Regions from separate parts of the Homo sapiens genome. Here regions 2, 3 and 4 are each linked to region 1. The links come from fine-mapping of genetic effects on gene expression. A gene starts in region 1. Each other region holds a variant in brackets. All regions are shown on one strand. Distances are from middle to middle.

Region 1 (5,320 bases):
ACTGTGTAGACTCCTTACGACTTTTTCTAAACCATGTTTTTCATTTCATTTTTTAAAAGTTCATTCATTCAAAAAATAGTTAGATTGAACTGGGCATGGTGGCTCACGTAATCCCAGCACCTTGGGATGCTGAGATGGGAGGATCATTTGTGTCAGGAGTTCAAGACCAGCCTGGCCAACATGGTGAAACCCCATCTCTACTAAAAATACAAAAATTAGCCAGGTGTGGTGGTGGGTGCCTATAATCCCAGCTACTCAGGAGGCTGAGGAAGAAGAATTGCTTGAACCCAGGAAGTGGAGATTGCAGTGAGCTGAGACTGCAGTGAGCTGAGATCACACCACTGCACTCCAGCCTGGGCAACAGAGTGAGAGACTTCATCTCACAGACAAAAAAAATTGATAGATTGTTTACCCTAGTGTTCTAACTGCTAGATATAGAAGTAACTAATAAAATTAAGGGGTTCTTTTTGACCTCATGAAGCTTAGATTCTAGAGAACAGAAAAAGGCTGTAAACATATAATAAATGAGAACAGTAGGAAAAGACACAAGAGCAACTTGATGGAGGGCCTTAAAGTCAACAGTAGCCATTTGAATTTTAAGAGGAGAAGCACTGGAAGATTTAAAATAGGGTAGTGAGGCTGCTCTGCCTATGAAGTAGCCAATGGTATATTTTTAATTTTTAATTGTCTTTTATTCCTTTACTTTCTTAATAAACTTGCTTTCACTTTGCACTGTGAAAAAAATTAAATGAAATAGTGTCGTAAGATTAGCTTGATGTCCATTTTAAGTCATTAAAACAAAAACCATATCAAAGTGGTTGGTGTGTTTCTTTACAGTCTTTTTTTCTTTACAACTTAAAAAACATATGAATATAAATTTCATAAAGTCAGGGATTATTTGTAATTACTTCATATGATGGTTTATTTATCACAGTCCTCTCTAATCTATACAATCAGTTTGCTTTTGATTCTATTAGGTGATATAAATTTCCTAAGAGAAAACTAACCTCACAATAATGTTATTGCAGTTGGCCAACTCTAACCACTGCTTTTGGAACTGCCTTTTCTCTTTGCTTATCACAAACATAAACACATACACACACTTTTCATCTAATAGTATGATGGAAATAATAGAGACTCTAGAGTCAGACTTGATTATTTTTTTTAACCTCCTTTGGCTTCAATACCTTATCTATAAAATGTAGCTATTAACATCTATTTCCAAAACCCCGTTTTGAGAACTAAGGATAAAGTGTAATATATTGAGTTCCAGGCACACAGAGGTTGCTAAATAAACAATCACTCCTTATCCTGTGCTTTTTCTCTTTCATCCCCATCACTCAGCTTCCATTCTCAGATCTAACATATTTGTAAAACCATGTAGTTGGCAATTGAGGCCTTAGACTAAATCTTTATATGAAATTTTAAAGCCCATTACAATAGCACCCACTAATCCAATGATTAGTGGCATGATTCACTGCAAAAAAATCTTCCACAGACTTCTGAAAATATTTTAAAATGTTAAAAAGGAACATGGTATTATTATAGAACTTTTAGTTATGCTATAAAATAAATTTAAAGTTGGCCACTTTCAATTGAAATCTTATAAAAGAGCATATTACATACATTTTTTAACCAGTGGCAAAAGAAGGAAATAAGCGTTGAATATCTTGGTATAAAAACCTAGTATTTCATTTCATGCATCTATCATTCAAGAGGTATTTTAAAAATACAGAGTCATGGTGCTTTTGGAAGTCTAATATTATGACATGTAATTTATATGGACTAATAGCACTATGTTCTCTCAGACATCTTATTTTGTAATATTCAATTTTTCAAGACCTAATATTAACAGAAAGAAGAAAATGTTATAGACAATTCAAAGTAATCTGTCAAGTTTTAAATTTACCAATATTTTTTTCTTGTCTACTTTGGAATAATCACTTCGCTGGTACTATTCAGCAATCTTCATTCGTCCTGTTAGTTTCTTAGCACAAAGATTAATTCCAAATTTCCTCCACTCCACCTCAAATCCACGATCCTTCTTAATACTTAATTCCTTCTTAATATTTTATTTTCTATATTACCTTTGTCTTCCACTGTGGCATTATTCCCAGTAAAGACAAACATCTGTGTACCTTCACCTCCTATTGGAAAAATCATTCCTGTCTCTAGCATGACTGATAGATTAATTACCTCAATTCTCTTTTATCTTCCGTATCTTCCTACGAGTCAACTTGGTCTTAAGTTCCCTTTTACTCAAGCTCCTGTCTCCTCTAAACTGCTCTTCTTAAGACTACCATAATCGACGTGTGAATATATTAGTGTAATCGTGTTTGTAACTTGGTAAAAAAACAAAACACTATTTAGCAAACTGAAGTAACAGAATTTTGTTCATTTTTCTACGGGACATTTTAAATGACCTATTTCTTTAAAGTTTTGTCTGTATTACAGGGCCTTAATGTCTAGTTTCACAACTATATTAACCAAGCCTGAAGCAGGCTACAGTTAGGCAATATTTTCCAATATAAAGACCTCTGATTAAATTCTTACTGTGAATCTTCGGAATTTGGCATGAAACAGAACAAGCATGATTGCACCTGTTCTTCCCTATTGTAAACCATCTTCGGTGTCAACATATACAATAAGTTTTGTGGTATTTCCACCTGGTTTTCTATTTTCAAAGTACCCTTGTATGACACAGGTATAAAAATATTTTGATTCTAATCTGCCATTTTCCTTACTCTCACACTTTTTTGGACGGCTTATAATTTTCGATATGGTACAAAGCTCACTAACTGGTTCTTTGCTAGAGGCCTGCTACTGATACTGATGGTCGCTAAATGCTAGGTACGCCGCCAGTATTGCTCTTACTTCAATACCGACATCGCAGGATAAAGGCAGTCACATTTAGGCGCGCAAGCGCAATTCTTGATTAATGAGCCAAGGCAGACTTCTCAATCCGAGTTTTGAGTTTTCCTTACTTTTCCCCCAAATGCTCTTTTCCTCGGATTTCACATCGATAGCACTTATTCGAGTTTTCACGAGTAACCTGACGCAGGCGGAACCGACGAAGACTAGCCGGCAAGAATCCTACAGTCGCAGCCATCTGCGCAGCGTCCGCCGGGGACGCTCCGCGCGGAAGACCGCCTGTGACTCGACACACTCTCCAGTGACGCGGCCGTCGCCGCACCTGCGCGGCGGGGCGGGAAGGAGACTCCCAGCGCCGGGGGGAAGGGAGTCTACGACTCGGGAGGGAGGTGGGGGAGCAGGGAGGGAGAGAGGGAACAAGGGAGAAGGAGAGAGGCGGACAGGCGGAGGGGCGGAGGGGCAGAGGGGCGGAGGGGCGGTCCTTCCGGAGGTTCTTAGGTCCTTCACTTCCTGTTTGCCGGCACTTCAAAATCCGGGTCAAAGGGTGTCGCTTCGGTCTCTTCTCCCCGGCTGATCCCAGCACTCTCCGTGACAGCGCCTCCTGACTCAGCCCAGGACCGGCTTCTTCTCACGACCTGCTGGAGACTGGACGCCCACACCTGACCCGGAACTCGGAGGCGTGCTTCCTCCACCCGCCGGCTAGCAGCCCCGGGCCCTGAGCTCCCGCCGACGCCGCTGGGGGGCCCGACAGGCCCCTCGGCGCTGATGCTGAGTGGGATCGAGGGCCCGGGGCGGCGGCGGAGTACGGGCCTCTGGCGCCTTAGGCCAGCCGCAGGTGTCGGTTCTTAGGCTCTCCAGGCTCGCTAGCTCCCGCCCCGGCTTGGATGGGTCTCCCTGCGCCATAAATGTGGCTGCTGAGGCGGCGGTGGCCGTGGCCCGTCGCGCTGCTGCTGCGGCGCTCCAAGTTCATCTCCGCCCCGGGGCTCTCCTGCCCCACCTCGGGGCTGCCGCCACCCGCTCCTTATCCCCTGGCCCTGGCCTTGCAGCGTGGCGACAATGGACAAGATCCTGGAGGGCCTTGTGAGTTCCTCGCATCCCCTGCCCCTCAAGCGGGTGATTGTGCGGAAGGTGGTGGAATCGGCGGAGCACTGGCTAGACGAGGCGCAGTGCGAGGCCATGTTTGACCTGACGACCCGGCTCATCCTGGAGGGCCAGGACCCTTTCCAGCGGCAGGTGGGGCACCAGGTGCTGGAGGCCTACGCACGATACCACCGGCCAGAGTTCGAGTCCTTCTTCAACAAGACCTTCGTGTTGGGCCTCCTTCATCAGGGCTACCACTCTCTGGACAGGAAGGATGTAGCCATCCTGGACTACATTCACAACGGCCTGAAGCTGATTATGAGCTGTCCGTCGGTGCTGGATCTCTTTAGCCTCCTGCAGGTAGAGGTGTTACGGATGGTGTGTGAGAGGCCGGAGCCGCAGCTCTGTGCCCGACTGAGCGACCTTCTGACCGACTTTGTGCAATGCATCCCCAAGGGGAAATTGTCCATCACGTTCTGTCAACAGCTGGTTCGAACGATAGGCCATTTCCAGTGCGTGTCCACCCAGGAAAGAGAGCTGCGGGAATATGTCTCCCAGGTGACAAAAGTGAGTAACTTGCTGCAGAACATCTGGAAGGCCGAGCCTGCCACACTACTGCCTTCCCTGCAAGAAGTTTTTGCAAGCATCTCTTCCACAGGTAAGGGTCATTATCTTTCAGAATATCTCATAAAAAATCAGTATATGTCTCTCTTGCACACACACATTCACACCATGTTTTCCTCCTGCCCTAAAAACATTCTTAAGCGAGAGCAAATCCTAATACCTCATCCCAAATTTATTCACATTCACTACCTTATTCAGGACGTCACATCGTACTTTAAAAACAGGCAGCGTTCCCATTTTAAAGGTTGAGAACGTCCAGGTCTAAGACCTTTGGCACTAAACAAGTTGCTTAATTACCCAGCCTCTGCTCAAGTTATTTGGAATGCTTTGAGGATGACAGCTACTGCAGAAAGCTTCCATTCATTAGTGACTAATGGTAGCATGATGTTTACCATAGTATTTATTGTACGTGTCTCTAATTTTGTAATGAGTTTTTCCCCCATTTTTGTATTTCCTCATTTTTGAATTAATGGATTGTGCAGTTTGTTTTATTACTGGATTATCCCAGATAACTATGAAGTTTTTAAATAGTGACATTTTTTGTCTACAGTATCTAGTAGACAAAGGAGGAATACAGATAGAATGAGGGAAGGAAGAGTACGAGGATTTAAATATTTGTTTTTGTGCCCATGAACTGCATTCTCAGAAAGCAGAGAAGGGTCACATGATACTTGCCTAGAAAATGCTTTCTCGCCGAGGAATTTTACCAGTACCTCTACCTTCGTTGTTCTGTCTTGGACCTTTC
Region 2 (5,320 bases), 270 kb before region 1:
CAGGGTTTTCCAGAGAAGCCAAACCAATAACATATATATATATACATACATATATATATACACACACACACATATATACACACACACACATATGTATGTACATTATTAATTCAAAGAGAATTCTTTTACTTTCTTGGAAATCACTCTATCCTTAAAGTATGCATATATATTAGGAGTATTCTGCTGATTATTAATCATAGCTAACATCCAGTTAACAGGCTGTAGTTCATTTAAACAAACATGTATTCACATCAGTTGTGTCCTTTTTTTATTTTATTTTATTTTATTTTTATTTATTTATTTATTTTTTAATTTTCTTTTTTTTTATTATCATTATACTTTAAGTTTTAGGGTACATGTGCACATTGTGCAGGTTAGTTACATACGTATACATGTGCCATGCTGGTGCACTGCACCCACTAACTCGTCATCTAGTATTAGGTATATCTCCCAATGCTATCCCTCCCCCCTCCCCCCACCCCACAACAGTCCCCAGAGTGTGATATTCCCCTTCCTGTGTCCATGTGATCTCATTGTTCAATTCCCACCTATGAGTGAGAATATGCAGTGTTTGGTTTTTTGTTCTTGTGATAGTTTACAGAGAATGATGATTTCCAATTTCATCCATGTCCCTACAAAGGACATGAACTCATCATTTTTTATGGCTGCATAGTATTACATGGTGTATATGTGCCACATTTTCTTAATCCAGTCTATCATTGTTGGACATTTGGGTTGGTTCCAAGTCTTTGCTATTGTGAATAATGCCGCAATAAACCAACTTACAAGGGATGTGAAGGACCTCTTCAAGGAGAACTACAAACCACTGCTCAAGGAAATAAAAGAGGATACAAACAAATGGAAGAACATTCCATGCTCATGGGTAGGAAGAAGCAATATCATGAAAATGGCCATACTGCCTAAGGTAATTTACAAATTCAATGCCATCGCCATCAAGCTACCAATGCCTTTCTTCACAGAATTGGAAAAAACTACTTTAAAGTTCATATGGAACCAAAAAAGAGCCCACATCACCAAGTCAATCCTAAGCCAAAAGAACAAAGCTGGAGGCATCACACTACCAGACTTCAAACTATACTACAAGGCTACAGTAACCAAAACAGCATGGTACTGGTACCAAAACAGAGATATAGATCAATGGAACAGAACAGAGCCCTCAGAAATAATGCTGCATATCTACAACTATCTGATCTTTGACAAACCTGAGAAAAACAAGCAATGGGGAAAGGATTCCCTATTTAATAAATGGTGCTGGGAAAACTGGCTAGCCATATGTACAAAGTTGAAACTGGATCCCTTCCTTACACCTTATACAAAAATCAATTCAAGATGGATTAAAGACTTAAACGTTACACCTAAAACCATAAAAACCCTAGAAGAAAACCTAGGCATTACCATTCAGGACATAGACATGGGCAAGGACTTCATGTCTAAAACACCAAAAGCAATGGCAACAAAAGACAAAATTGACAAATGGGATCTAATTAAACTAAAGAGCTTCTGCACAGCAAAGGAAACTACCATCAGAGTGAACAGGCAACCTACAGAATGGGAGAAAATTTTTGCAACCTACTCACCTGACAAAGGGCTAATATCCAGAATCTACAATGAACTCAAACAAATTTACAAGAAAAAAACAAACAACCCCATCAAAAAGTGGGCGAAGGACATGAACAGACACTTCTCAAAAGAAGACATTTATGCAGCCAAAAAACACATGAAAAAATGCTCATCATCACTGGCCATCAGAGAAATGCAAATCAAAACCACAACGAGATACCATCTCACACCAGTTAGAATGGCAATCATTCAAAAGTCAGGAAACAACAGGTGCTGGAGAGGATGTGGAGAAATAGGAACACTTTTACACTGTTGGTGGGACTATAAACTAGTTCAACCATTGTGGAAGTCAGTGTGGCGATTCCTCAGGGATCTAGAACTAGAAATACCATTTGACCCAGCCATCCCATTACTGCGTATATACCCAAAGGACTATAAATCATGCTGCTATAAAGACACATGCACACGTAGTTGTGTCCTTCTTACTTACATTTTTTATTTTTGAATTTTTGTTGTTTCTACCGCAGTTTATCATTACTATTGCTAATGTCAAATTGCTAAATCATGAAAGTAGAAATTATAGTTTAGAGTTGACTTATTAAACATAATAGTACTAAAGAAAATATTAACCTAAATATCACAGCTTAAATAATATCATAAACATACAAGATGAATATGAATATACAGAATAGGCTGGGACAATTGCATCTTCAGCTGTGGTTATTTGTGTAAGCCTCAATAGTGAATTTTGTTGGACCTCCGATCCATTCACTTCTGGTCCCCATGGCAGTTTCAGTAAAACATTGTAAAGGCTTCTGCTTCATTTTCAAATAAATCACATGGTCTCTTTCGTAAACCAGTTGTGTTTTTCCAGAGATATTACAATATGTTACTGACGGAAAAAAAATTGATTGTATTACTAAAGATGGAGAAGAGACAAAACTACAGGAGCATTATTCATATTGCAATCATCTAGTGAAAATAGAGAAAGCTTATTGCTCATAACAAGTCTCTAAAGTTAATAAAAAATATTGTGCTAAAAAGAAAACAGAACCTACGTTATTGGTAAAATTCCTTTTATGAAATGAACTTATTGGATATCACCTAGTATCAGTGGCACAAAATGTGGAGTTACAAACATAGATGTATATTATCTTGCATTTGGATGAAACCACTGATGTATTTTATAAATCAGTTCTTATAATATGGTAAGTTTAAAAAATCCATTACAATCAAAGAAATTTTTAATTAAATTTCAAGAATTAAAAATTAGATAATTTAATTATCTAAGAGGAAAAAGTAATGATTTCTTATCACATTTAACTCTAAGATTTCATACTAAAGGACAAAAGACCTTTTTAAAAATATTAGCTCCAATTTTCTTTGAGGGATGACATAGTCTAGAAAGGGTGTGTTGGGGTTAGCGCTTAAATAACAATCATTAGCTATGCAGCAAGAAAGGGTGTTACTAAGCTTTTTCACCAAAAAATCAGTGAAATATCCTGATGTATTCATTTTAAAAATGTGGTTGACTCAGTGTTGCAGAAAATAGCAATTATTTTGAATATAATTAGGTTAAAGTTCTTTAGTTACAAACAACCAAACCAATTTCTGACTGACTTAGATAAAAGTAAACTTATTAAAATGG[T/TAA]AAAAAAAAAAAAAAAAAAAAAGCTTACAGAATTGATGGCGGGCTACAGAAGGACCTTTGGGAATAGGAAGGAATGAAATCAGCTTCTGAGGCTAAGAATCAGAAGTCCAGCATTTGTGGCAAATCAGGACCAGGCTGGTGAAAGCCTACCACTGGGATGAGACAGAAGGCCAGCTGTTTAACTCTTTTTTCCTCTACACAAGATTAAAATATTTCACCTTAAATTGTAGAAGACGGGGATCTGATAAAGAGTCCCACCAGATTGTATTTCATTCATCAAACTGAAGTGCTAAAGAGGCTAGGTAGGCAAAATGTAACCAATGTCCGAAAGAGGGAGACTCTGAGAACTTTATTTTCAGCATACTACGTAAAGAAATGGTCAGCAAGGACAAGAGACTACATTGCCACATGTTAAAGACAAGATATCAGGGTTTCTTAAGAAAAACAAATTGTGATATAAATGGTTTATCTCTAAGGGTTTAACTTTTATAACGTTGGATAATTTTCTTCACACCAAGAAACAGAAACTGACAACATGTTTTACATGCTACATGTTATAAAACATTTTATTATCGTGTGTGAATTCTGATACAGAACAGAGTTAAATGAAACTGCAAAGTAAATTTAGAGGCCCATCAACCTCACCTCCCAAAATAAAACATTTACTTGATTTCCCTACTTCTGAGTGTGGTCTGCTTATAACCGTATCTAATGGAGCAATTAATGTTGTCTTCAGTTAAAAAAAAATCTGAAAAATCACTAGATATATATTGATCTGAATATCTAGAACTTTTGACATATTCCCTAAACCCCTGCAAATTAGAGGTCTTAAAGAAATAAAGAGGAAAAAAAAGATGTGAATCCTAACCAGCAGCTCAAAATATCCATCACTGAACCAGATATTTTTATTCTAGGGAAAGGTTAAAGCAATGTGATCTCACCAAGATGAAAAAAAAAACTATAAATTTAGAAAGTCTATGCTTTATATTTAATTGGTTTAATTTTTAATTTTAAAATGTTAATTGTAAAGAAATGTTTTTAACTTACCAAAATTAGTGGGCTCCATTTTCTCATGTTGACTGGTCCTTAAGTCAACAGAGATGCCAGAACTTGAGAAATAACCCTCCAGCAGGAGCCTGGACTCTATCTATAAATGTTGAGCATATTAATCTTTGCCCAGAGCTCAAATCTGGAAACACGATGAATAGCATTCAACATGGATCATAAACATGAACACATTTAATAACAGTTACAGGAAGCTTAATCTTAGAAGAAAGGCATGCCATACTCTCTTTTTGGAAATATGTACTAGAAACTAAGGTGATGAGTAATTTGACAGATAGTAGAGTGTATGTTTAAGTATAAATTATCATGATTATTTGTTAATTATAATGAGAAGCAGAGTGGTATAGAAAGTACACAAGATTTGGAGACAGAAATCACCTTATCCCTGGTTTTTCTACCAAGTGAATGTTTGCTATTGAATGAATTATTGTACTTAATATCTCTAAACCTCACTTCATTCCCCTGTAAAATGGCAAAAATAATGATATGCCCAGATACTACATGAAAAGTAAATAAGGTAGCAGTGTGTACATTATAAAGTAATCTAAAAATATTGCTGACTTTTCCACATAACTTCTCAAATCTTCGTTCTATTTGGCTTAGGGAAATTAGATTAAAAATGTGTTTTAATCATCCAAAAAAGACTAACCTTTTATCTTACCCTTCGAAATTAAAATTAAGGGAAATAAGCATCATCATAAATGATAATGTCAAGTAGATGTAATTCATCATTCTTATAATATTTCAAGTGCCAAAATAATCTCTTTTTGGCACCAATCCTAATATCAGCCAGAAATGGTAATGTCAAAACCACCATTACACTTTTTATTATTGTGCACATTGTAGTTTTAATATTGCCTTCATTTCAAATTCTTATCTAATTATTGTGAATTACCAACAATAGCATTTAGATGTTCATGAATAGAAGTAAATACATTTCCCTGCTACTTGATTAGAGGAGAAATATGAGGCCTTAAGACCTTTTTAAGTACATAGAAAAGTCCTTTTCAGAGCTTGAAAATGTTA
Region 3 (5,320 bases), 220 kb before region 1:
GTTCTGCCTTCAGAAGATTTATAATCCAGAAAATAATGAGAGAAGTACGCAAATAATTGTATTACCATACATTCTACATTTCTTGTCATCTCAGAGTTATAGACAAGGCATTATGGTGTTATAGAAGGAAACAGTTTTATCAGTTTGGACCAAAAATTACTCACTCAGGAAAATAAACTTTCATTAGGATGGCCTTTGAGAAAGACCTGTAATTGATAGGATTTCAAATGCAGAAATAAACAATGAAAAGAAAGGAGGGCAACACTTCAGGAAAGAAAACAACATAAATAAAAGCACTACAGCAGAAAAATTGATACATCTTATTTTGTCCTGTTAGAATAGAAGGTATGGTGGGAAGGCTTTGGAACACATAAGCTGGAAGAGTAAGTTTAGATTACATTGTGAAGAGCACAAAGTTGTTATAATTATAAAATATTTATGAAGCCCTTTCTATATGCAAGCATGACGCTGGTACTTTATGTGTACTTTCTCATTTTATCATAGGAATAAACTCTAATTTGTTATATATCGCCTCTAGTCTGAGGCGTCAGTATCTAATTCAGCAGAAAATTTTGAAGAACCACAAGAAACTGAATGACACTCTCTAGCTGGGCTTCTGGAAGGCTAATCATGTAAGAGCATTAAGTACAGGATGCAAAAGGGAGTAATAACAATAAAGGTACTTTTGTAATAGATAAGACACAAGGTAGGATTGAAACAGTGTGGCAATGTTCAAACTGAAGAAGAAGGGCTAGATTCAAGACATTAGGAACAACTTGACAAGTAACTATGCTATGATGTGAAGAGTCCTATGAAGGAGAAGATGGAGGAAAACCCTAACATTTAGAACCTGAGCCCTGAAATTAATAAAATAAGGAGTCAAGTGTTGTAATTAACAAAAAATAGGAAGTAAGGCAGATGCAGTGGGCTTATTAAGATGTTTCTAGAGTCTGTGCAGAGAACTTTTGATTTTTTACTATGTGGCTTTGAGAAAACAGCTTAATGTCTCAAGCCTGTTTTCTTCTCTGAAAAAATGTGAGTAATAACATCCAACTTACATACTTTACAGGGGAATTAAATAAGATAATATTTTTTTTTTTTTTTAAAAAGGAAGGCCAGGCGCGGTGGCTCATGCCTGTAACCCCAGCACTTTGGGAGTCTGAGACGGGCAGATCACAAGGTCAGGAGATCGAGATCATCCTGGCTAACACGGTGAAACCCCATCTCTACTAAAAATACAAAAAATTAGCCGGGTGTGGTGGCGTGCACCTGTAGTCCCAGCTACTCAGGAGGCTGAGGCAGGAGAATGGCGTGAACCTGGGAGGTGGAGCTTGCAGTGAACCGAGATCGCACCACTGCACTTCAGCCTGGGCGACAGAGTGAGACTCTGTCTCAAAAAAAAAAAAGAAAAAAAGAAAAGCAAAGAAAAAGAAAAAAAGAAAAGGAAAAGCACTATGGATAGCACATCTCAGATACTCATTAAACAGTAACTAATACTGTTTTTATTGCTACAGCTATTGTGTCTTCTGGGCATTATGAAAAATTGGGAGTAAAAAGTTTAGGTTTGGAAGATATTAATTGAAGATGTGAGAGAGGAAGAAATCATCAAAGAATTTTTTTTTAAGTTTTGAGGAGAAAATCTTGGATTACTTCCATTTTAAGACACAGTATGAGAGAGGGGACTCTGTGAAGGAGAGAGGGGGGAAATATTAGTAAGGTAAAAAGAAATGAGAGATGGGGAAAAGAAAGATCATAGAGGAGATGGTTAAGATGTCAAATGCTGCTTAGAGTATAAAAAAAGTTGAGACCTGAGAAAAATGTTAGCGGCAGAGTCAAAAAGTGTTGTCTGTCAGAAGATGGAGACCTAAATGTGTTTATTGGCATACAGGAAAGAGTTAGTAGAGAGGAAGATTAAATTTACAAAGAAAAAAGAGAAAAATTGAAGGAATAAGATCTCAGAGAAAGAAAAGGGGTCTAGATTAAGAGCATAAGTGGAAAAGTCGGCCTCTGCCAGGAGGAGACAGGCACTTCCTCTCGGCAGGGCATGAGAGAAAAGAGGAGGAGGTCAGAGCCGTGGATGAAAAACCGAAGGACCTAAGAGCAGTGCCACGTGATGACAGAGCTCACTTAAGCTGGCTTTTTAGTAAAGTAATAGGTTAGGTCATCTACTAAGGGGAAGAGAAGTGGATCAAATTAAAGCCTTGAAAATATGTTC[A/G]CAGTTTATTTTTTTTTCCACAGGTAAAGGGTGTTTACCCAGTAAAGGACATTTCTTCATGTTTTCACCTTAATAATATTTTATCAAAGCCATTTTTCTCCTCAAAGCACTCATTTTCCTAGTATTTGGAGAAAGTTTTCAGAGAAAAGCATTTAAGTGACTGAAATTAGTCCACTCCTTAATGTCAACTCTATGTAAAAAAGGACTAAGTGATGGTGATGGGAGTGGTGAAGGGGGTTCCAAATTGCACAACATCACTCTGAAGCATTCACCTTCCTACAGAATGATTATAATACAATTTTTGTAGATCTCTTTTCTAAACCCCTCTATTGGGTTGAATGATGTCCCCACAAAATGCATTTCCCCCTGGAGCCTTAGAATGTGACCTTGTTTGGAAATTAGGTATTTGCAGATGTATGCAGTGAAAATGAAGCCATACTGCATTAGGGTGATCCCTGATCCAATAGGACTGGTGACAGAGAGAAAATTGGACACAGAAGAAAGACAGAGGCAGAAACTGAAGTTATATTATCACAACCAAGGGATGTCTGGGGCTTTCAGAAGCTGGAAGAGGCTGTATTAGTCTGTTTTCATGCTGCTGATAAAGACATACCCCAGATTGGGAAGAAAAAGAGGTTTGATTGGACTTGCAGTTCCACTTGGCTGGTGAGGCCTCAGAATCATGGCAGGAGACAAAGGCACTTCTTACATGGTGGTGACAAGAGAAAATGAGGAACAAACAAAAGCAGAAATCCCTGATAAACCCATCAGATCTCGTGAGACTTATTCACTATCACAGGAAAGAGCAGCCCCCATGATTCAATTGCCTCTCCCTGGGTCCCTCTCACAACACATGGGAATTCTGGTAGCTACAATTCAAATTGAGATTTGGGTGGGGACACAGCCAAATCATATCATTTCACCCCTGGCCCCTCCAAATCTCATGTCCTAACATTTCAAAACCAGTAATGTCATCCCAACAGTCCCCCAAAGTCTTAACTCATTTCAGCATTAACCCAAAAGTCCACAGTCTGAAGTCTCATCTGAGACAAGGCAAGCGCCTTCTGCCTCTGAGGCCGTAAAATCAAAAGCAAGCTAGTTACTTCCTAGATACAATGGGAGTACAGGTATTGGGTAATTACAGCCATTCCATATGGGAGAAATTGGCCAAAACAAAGGGGTTACAGGGCCATGCAAGTCCAAAATCCAGCAGGGCAGTCAAATTTTAAAGCTCCAGAATTATCTCCTTTGACTCCAGTCTCACACTCAGGTCATGCTGATGCAAGAGGTGGGTTCCCATGGTCTTGGGCAGCTCCACCCCTGTGGCTTTGCAGTCTCTGTCCCAGCTGCTTTCACAGGCTGGCATTGAGTGTCTGTGGCTTTTACAGGCACACGGTCCAAGCTGTAGGTGGATCTACAATTATGGGGTCTGGAGGATGGTGGCCCTCTTCTCACAGCTCCACTAGGCAGTGCCCCAGTAGGCACTCTGTGTGGGGGCTCTGACCCCACATTTCCCTTCTGCATTGCCCTAGCAGGGGTTCTCCATGAGGCCCTGTCCCTGCAGCAAACTTCTGCCTGGGCATCCAGGAGTTTCCATATATCTGAAATCTAGGTGGAGGATCCCAAACCTCAGTTCTTGACTTCTGTGAACCCACAGGCTCAACACCATGTGGAAGCTGCTGAGGCTTGGGGCTTCCACCCTCTGAAGTCACAGTCCGAGCTGTATGTTGGCCCCTTTCAGCCACAGCTGGAGCGGCTGGGACACAGGGCACCAAGTCCCTAGGCTGCACACAGCACAGGGACCCTGGGCCCAGCCCATGAAACCACTTTTTCCTCCTGGGCCTCCGGGCCTGTGATGGGAGGGGCTGCCATGAAGGTCTCTGACATGGCCTGGAGACATTTTCCCCATGGTCTTGGGGATTAACATTAGGCTCCTTGCTACTTAGGCAAATTTCTGCAGCCAGCTTGAATTTCTCCCCAGCAAATGGGTATTTCTTTTCTATCCCATAGTCAGACTGCAAATTTTCCAAACTTTTATGCTCTGCTTCCCTTATAAAACTGAATGCCTTTAACAGTACCCAAGTCATTTCTTGAATGCTTTGCTGTTTAGAATTTTTTTCTGCCAGATATTCTAAATCATCTTTCTCAAGTTCAAAGTTCCACAAAACTCTAGGGCAGGGGCAAAAAGCCACCAGTCTCTTTGCTAAAACATAACAAGAGTCACATGTGCTCCAGTTCCCAACAAGTTCCTTATCTCCATCTGAGACCACCTCAGCCTGGACCTTATTGTGCATATCACTATCAGCATTTTGAGCAAAGCCATTCAGCAAGTCTCTAGGAAGTTCCAAACTTTCCCACATTTTCCTGTCTTCTTCTGAGCCCTCCAAACTGTTCTAACCTCTACCTGTTACCCAGTTCCAAAGTCACTTCCATATTTTCAGCAGTGCCCCACATTACTGGGACCACTTTACTGTAGAAGTCTGTTTTCACGCTGCTGATAAAGACATACCAGAGACTGGGAATAAAAAGAGGTTTAATTGGACTTACAGTTCCACATGGCTGGGGAGGCCTCAGAATCAGAGGCCAAGAACAATTTTTCCCTGCAGGCTTCCAAGGGAGCATGGCCCTGCCAACACCTTAATTTTGGACTTCTGGCCTCCAGAACTGTGAGGGAATAAATGTCCATGTTTTATGTCACCCAGTTTGTGGTGCTTTGTTTCAGCAGCCCTGAGAAACTAATACACCCACCAAAAGGAACAAGGGATGTAAATCCTGTAACTATTGAATGCTACCTATATTAGGCATCTTAAGAATAAATCAAAAATCAGAAGTATCATTTTCTGCCAGAACTTAGCTTTGTTGAGCCTGCACCCCTCTTTGGAAATACCAGGAAAAATATTTATTAAACTGTCATTGTAAACAGAGTGTGGTTTATCTGAAAATCCTGGAAAACAGATGGGAGTGGACCTGAGATAAAATTATCTTTAAATTTCACCATGTAAAAAATTACCCAAGTACTGTTAGTCCCAAAGTTCTACAGTAGAGGTCAAATGGGAATGAGAACTAATCACTTCAAATAACGAATTGGTAGAAAAAAAAAATAGC
Region 4 (5,320 bases), 43 kb before region 1:
CTATGTTTACACCCATTAATTCTTTATAATATGAAAAAAGCTTATTTATTTTCTTTGAAGGATACTCTACCTTTCTTAGCTCTGTCTGAAATAAACAAGTACACAGATCTAAAGATGTGTATATGCTTATTTTTTGTAGCAGCCAGGCTTTTAGCACAATATGAAAAAATATCGTATTCATCTCAAAATAAATTTAAACCATGAATATGCCTACTAATATATTTAACTTCTAACCCAACAAAAGCATTTTCCATAGGTGGCAATAGCAGAAAAAAATAGAAAGCACAATGTGATTAGAGAAATTTACATAAATTCATTCCTGTTGCTTCTATAGAAGTTAATGCAATTAATTCTCTACAAGGTCAATTAAGAACTGCTGATGAAGTTTTCTGAAGGATTGCCTGAATCCTTTTAAATCTTTTAGATTTAGTCTATATCTATTACATTCTTTAGAAAAACTTTTAGCAATAATCAACATTTCATCTTATTGAGGAAAGAAACTTTGCAAGAAGCAGTAGTTTATCTTTCATTTGATATATTAAATCCCTTTCAAGTATATGTTGAATCTTTGGAGGTAAATTCAGTGGGGTGTTCCCAAGGGCAGCCTCTCAGTCAGTCCTATTTTCAAACCAAAGATGCCTGTTGTTGCCAATATATTGCTGTTACGTTTTAGCAGATGGCTGTGGTAACATATTACTCCATCTAGTTAAGTAGGTTCTATTCACACAGGCATGTAACTATTTCCTTTTGTATCATTCACATTCATTTCTTAGCACACACTTTGCTTTTCTTCACATTCCGCGCAATATGTGCTTGAGATCAAACATCCAATTTTTAACACTATAATTATTCTCCCTACCATTTAAAATATCCTACAAGAGCAGTATGGTGCAGTAAAAATTACATGGGCTTTGAAATAAGACAAATCTTGGTTAGAAACACAAAATCACTATATATATGACCTTGGGGAAATTACATACCCTGAGCCCATTTCATTGCCTGTAAAGTAGGAAAAATAATACCTAACTTGCAAATTTGTTGTAAAGATTGATGTAGTACATACAGAAAATACCTCCTCCCCACCAAATGATAAATACAAAAGTTTACAATAAAGCAGTAAGTTCTCATTTTCTCTCTCTGAGCTCTATCTTTCTACACAGTAAGATCATGCTTTGTATTGCTATTTTAATAATACCAACATGTCCTCCATGAGCTATTTAATCTGATACTCCACTCAATATAGTGATTGCTGATATTTTTCCTGACTCTTTTGCTTTCATTCTCTTTCTGGTGATCCTATGAGAACTGGTGTCAGCAGAGAATTTCTATATAGAATCAACTTGAAGCAACAATCTGGTAAGGAAACATTCAGAAAATTGTAAAGCTGGATGCATTAGCAATGTCTTGCTTCTTAACCTTGCTAATTTTGAGCCCCTACCTTCTTGCTCATTTTGTACCTGTTCATTGGCTTTCTTTCATTCAGATCCTTGAACGCTCCTTCCTGATCTAGGACCTTTGCACAAGCTGTTTGACTGCTCCCTGGAAATCTTAAATCTCCTCACCCTGCTCAACCTTCTGTCTTTAGCTTAAATGATGCCTTCTCAGGGAAACCCTCCTTAAATTTCCAGACTAATTTAAGTTTTTTCCTACTACATCCATACTTTTTTCATAACATTTACCTCAAATTTTTAAAATTAAGTAAAAATATTTCTGTGGGTGTCTAGCAAGATGGGTGAATAAGAACAGCTCCAGTCTGCAGCTCCTAGCAAGATCAATGGAGATGCCAGGTGATTTCTGCATTTCCAACTGATGCACCTGGCTCATCTCACTGGGACTGGTTAGACAGTTGGTGCAGCCCATGGAGGGCAAGCCAAAGCAGGGTGAGGCATTGCCTCACCCAGGAAATGCAAGGGGTCAGTGAACTGCCTCCGTGGGCCAAGGGAAGCCCTGAGGGACTGTGCTGTGAAAAATGTTGCACTCCAGCCCAGATACTATGCTTTTCCCACAGTCTTCGCAAATCGCAGACCAGGAGATTACTTCGGGTGCCTACACCATCAGGGCCCTGGGTTTCAAGCACAAAACTGGGTGGCTGTTTGGGCAGACACTGAGCTAGCTGCAGGAGTTGTTTTTCATACCCCTGTGGCACCTGGAACATCAGCGAGACAGAACCATTCAGTCCCCTGGAAAAGGGGTGAAGCAAGAGAGCCAAGTCGTCTAGCTCAGTGGATCCCACCCCATGGAGCCCAGCAAGCTAAGATCCACTGGCTTAAAATTCTCACTACCAGTACAGCAGTCTGAAGTCAACCTGGGACACTGGAGCTTTGTGGGGGAGGGGCCCACCATTACAGAGGCTTGAATAGGCGGTTTTCCCCTCACAGTGTAAACAAAGCCACGGGGAAGTTTGAACTGGGCAGAGCCCACCACAGCTCACCAAAGCCACTGTAGCCAGAGTGCTTCTCTAGATTCCTCCTCTCTGGGCAAGGCATCTCTGAAAGAAAGACAGCAGCCCCAGTCAGGGGCTTAGAGATAAAATTCCCATCTCCCTGGAACACAGCACCTGGGGGAAGGGGGGTGGCTGGGAATGCAGCTTCAGCAGACTTAAACATTCCTGCCTCCTAGCTCTGAAGACAGCAGTGGATCTCCCAGCACAGCGCTCGAGCTCTGCTAAGGGACAGACTGTCTCCTCAACTGGGTCCCTGACCCCCATGCCTCCTGATGGGGAGACACTTCCCAACAGGGGTCAACAGACATCTCATACAGGAGAGCTCCGGCTGGCATCTGGAGGGTACCCCTCTGGGACTAAGCTTTCAGAGGAAGGAAGAGACAGCAATCTTTGCCGTTCTGCAGCCCCTGCTGGTGATACCCAGGCAAACAAGGTCTGGAGTGGACCTCCATCAAACTCCAGCAGACCTA[C/T]ATCAGAGGGGCCTGACTGTTACAAGAAAAACTAACAAACAAAGGAATGGCATCAACATCAACAGAAAGGACATCCACACAAAAACCCCATCTGAAGGTCACCTACATCAAAGACCAAAGGTAGACAAATCCACGAAGATGGGGGAAACCAGCACAAAAAGGCTGAAAATTCTAAAAACCAGAATGCCTCTTCCCCTCCAAAGGATCACAGCTCCTCACCAGCAAGGAAACAAAACTGGATGGAGAATAAGTCTGAAGAACTGGCAGAGGTAGGCTTCAGAAGGTGAGTAATAACAAACTCCTCCGAGCTAAAGGAGCATGTTCTAACCAAATGCAAGGAAGCTAAGAACCTTGAAAAAAGGTTAGACAAATTGCTAACAAGAATAACAAGTTTATAGAAGAGCATAAATGACCTGATGGAGCTGAAAAACAGCATAAGAACAATGGGAAGCATACGCAATTATCAAACAGCCAAATCGATCAAACAAAAAAAGGATATCAGAGATTGAAGATCAACTTAATGAAATAACGCGTGAAGACAAGATTAGAGAAAAAAGAATGAAAAGCAACGAACAAAGCCTCCAAGAATATGGGACTATGTGAAAAGACAAAACCTAAGTTTGATTGGCATACCTGAATGTGACAGGGAGAATGGAACCAAGTCGGAAAACACTCTTCAGGATATTATCCAGGAGAACTTCCCCAACCTAGCAAGACAGGCCAACATTCAAATTCAGGAAATACAAAGAACACCACAAAGATACTCCTCGAGAAGGGCAACCCCAAGACACATAATCATCAGATTCACCAAGGTTGAAATGAAGAAAAAAATGTTAAGGGCAGCCAGAGAGAAAGATCGGGTTACCCACAAAGGGAAACCCATCAGACTAACAGCAAATCTCTCTGCAGAACCCTACAAGCCAAAAGAGAGTGGGGACCAATTCAACATTCTTAAAGAAAAGAATTTTCTACTGAGAATTACATATCCAGCCAAACTAAGCTTCATAAGAGAAGGAGAAGTAAAATCCTTTACGGAGAAGAAAATGCTGAGAGATTTTGTTACAACCAGGCCTGCCTTACAGGAGCTCCTAAAGGAAGTACTAAACATGGAAAGAAACAACCGCTACAAACCACTGTAAAAACATACCAAATTGTAAATACCATCGACACTATGAAGAAACTGCATCAACTAACGGGGAAAATAACCAGCTCGCATCATAATGACAGGATCAAATTCACACATAACAATATTAAACTTAAATATAAATGGGCTAAATGCCCCAATTAAAAGACACAGACTGGCAAATTGGATGAAGAGTCAAGACCCATCCATGTGCTGTATTCAGAAGACTCATCTCACATGCAAAGACATACAGAGGCTCAAAATAAAGGGAGGGAGGAATATTTACCAAGCAAATGGAAAGCAAAAAAAAAAAAAGCATAGGCTGCAATCCTAGTCTCCAATATAACAGACTTTAAACCAACAAAAGATCAAAACAAGACAAAAAAGGGAATTACATAACGGTAAAGGAATCAATGCAACAAGAAGAGCTAACTATCCTAAATATATATATGCATCCAATACAGGAACACACAGATTCATAAAGCAAGTTCTTAGAGACCTACAAAAAGACTTAGATGCCACACAATAATAGTGGGAGACTTTAACATCCCACTGTCAATATAAGACAGATCAACGAGACAGAAAATTAACAAGGATATTCAGGACTTGAACTCAGCTCTGGACCAAGCAGACCTAATAGACATCTACAGAACTCTCCCCCACAAATCAACAGAATATACATTATTCTCAGCACCACAACACACTTATTCTAAAATTGACCACATAAGTGGAAGTAAAACACTCCTCGGCAAATGCAAAAGAACAGAAATCCTAACAAACAGTCTCTCAGACCAAATGCAGTCAAATTAGAACTCAGGATTAAGAAACTCACTCAAAACCTCACAACTACATGGAAACTAAACAACCTGCTCCTGAATGACTACTGGGTAAATAATGAAATTAAGGCAGAAATAAGTAAGTTCTTTGAAACCAATAAAAACATAATGTACCACAATCTCTGGGACACAGCTAAAGCCATGTTTAGAGGGAAATTTATAGCACTAAAATGCCCACAGGAGAAAGTGGGAAAGATCTAAAATCGACATCCTACCATCACAATTTAAAGAACTAGAGAAGCAAGAGCAAACAACTTCAAAAGCTAGCAGAAGACAAGAAATAACTAAGATCAGAGCAGAACTGAAGGAGACAGAGACACTAAAAACCCTTCAAAAAATCAGTGAATTCAGAGCTGGTTTTTGGAAAAGATCAACAAAATACATAGACCATTAGCCAGACTAATAAAGAAGAAAAGAGAAGAATCAAATAGACACAATAAAAAATGAG

Alleles and levels. Alleles are on the strand shown, and positions count from the first base shown. SD is a standard deviation of normalised expression in the study named. Not every link is listed here.
For the expression in CD8 T cells of the gene that starts at base 3,394 in region 1, T is the low allele of the variant in region 2 and TAA is the other (large effect, 1.0 SD a copy in Kasela 2017).

The links. PIP is the estimated chance that this variant, and not a neighbour inherited with it, causes the effect.
Region 2: its variant is the best candidate, but not a certain one, in a credible set for the expression of USP38 in CD8 T cells (Kasela 2017, PIP 0.57).
Region 3: its variant is the best candidate, but not a certain one, in a credible set for the expression of USP38 in whole blood (INTERVAL, PIP 0.63).
Region 4: its variant is the best candidate, but not a certain one, in a credible set for the expression of USP38 in whole blood (INTERVAL, PIP 0.80).

Annotation. Positions count from the first base shown.
Region 1 is chr4:143,181,524-143,186,843 of GRCh38, forward strand. It overlaps USP38 (ubiquitin specific peptidase 38), which reads left to right and starts at 3,394. Exons shown (of 10, transcript NM_032557.6): 1 at 3,394-4,609. The coding sequence starts at 3,928. It overlaps USP38-DT (USP38 divergent transcript), which reads right to left and starts at 3,338. Exons shown (of 4, transcript NR_185979.1): 1 at 2,985-3,338. RefSeq lists enhancers at 2,444-3,329, 3,330-4,214 and silencers at 3,266-3,315, 3,536-3,785.
Region 2 is chr4:142,914,316-142,919,635 of GRCh38, forward strand. All of the region lies in intron 3 of USP38-DT (USP38 divergent transcript), which reads right to left. Among named protein-coding and RNA genes, the nearest start is that of INPP4B, 71 kb to the left of the region's middle. The variant T/TAA (reference allele first, on the strand shown) is at 3,230.
Region 3 is chr4:142,962,398-142,967,717 of GRCh38, forward strand. All of the region lies in intron 1 of USP38-DT (USP38 divergent transcript), which reads right to left. Among named protein-coding and RNA genes, the nearest start is that of INPP4B, 120 kb to the left of the region's middle. The variant A/G (reference allele first, on the strand shown) is at 2,216.
Region 4 is chr4:143,138,351-143,143,670 of GRCh38, forward strand. The region is part of intron 1 of USP38-DT (USP38 divergent transcript); the gene reads right to left. Among named protein-coding and RNA genes, the nearest start is that of USP38-DT, 44 kb to the right of the region's middle. The variant C/T (reference allele first, on the strand shown) is at 2,914.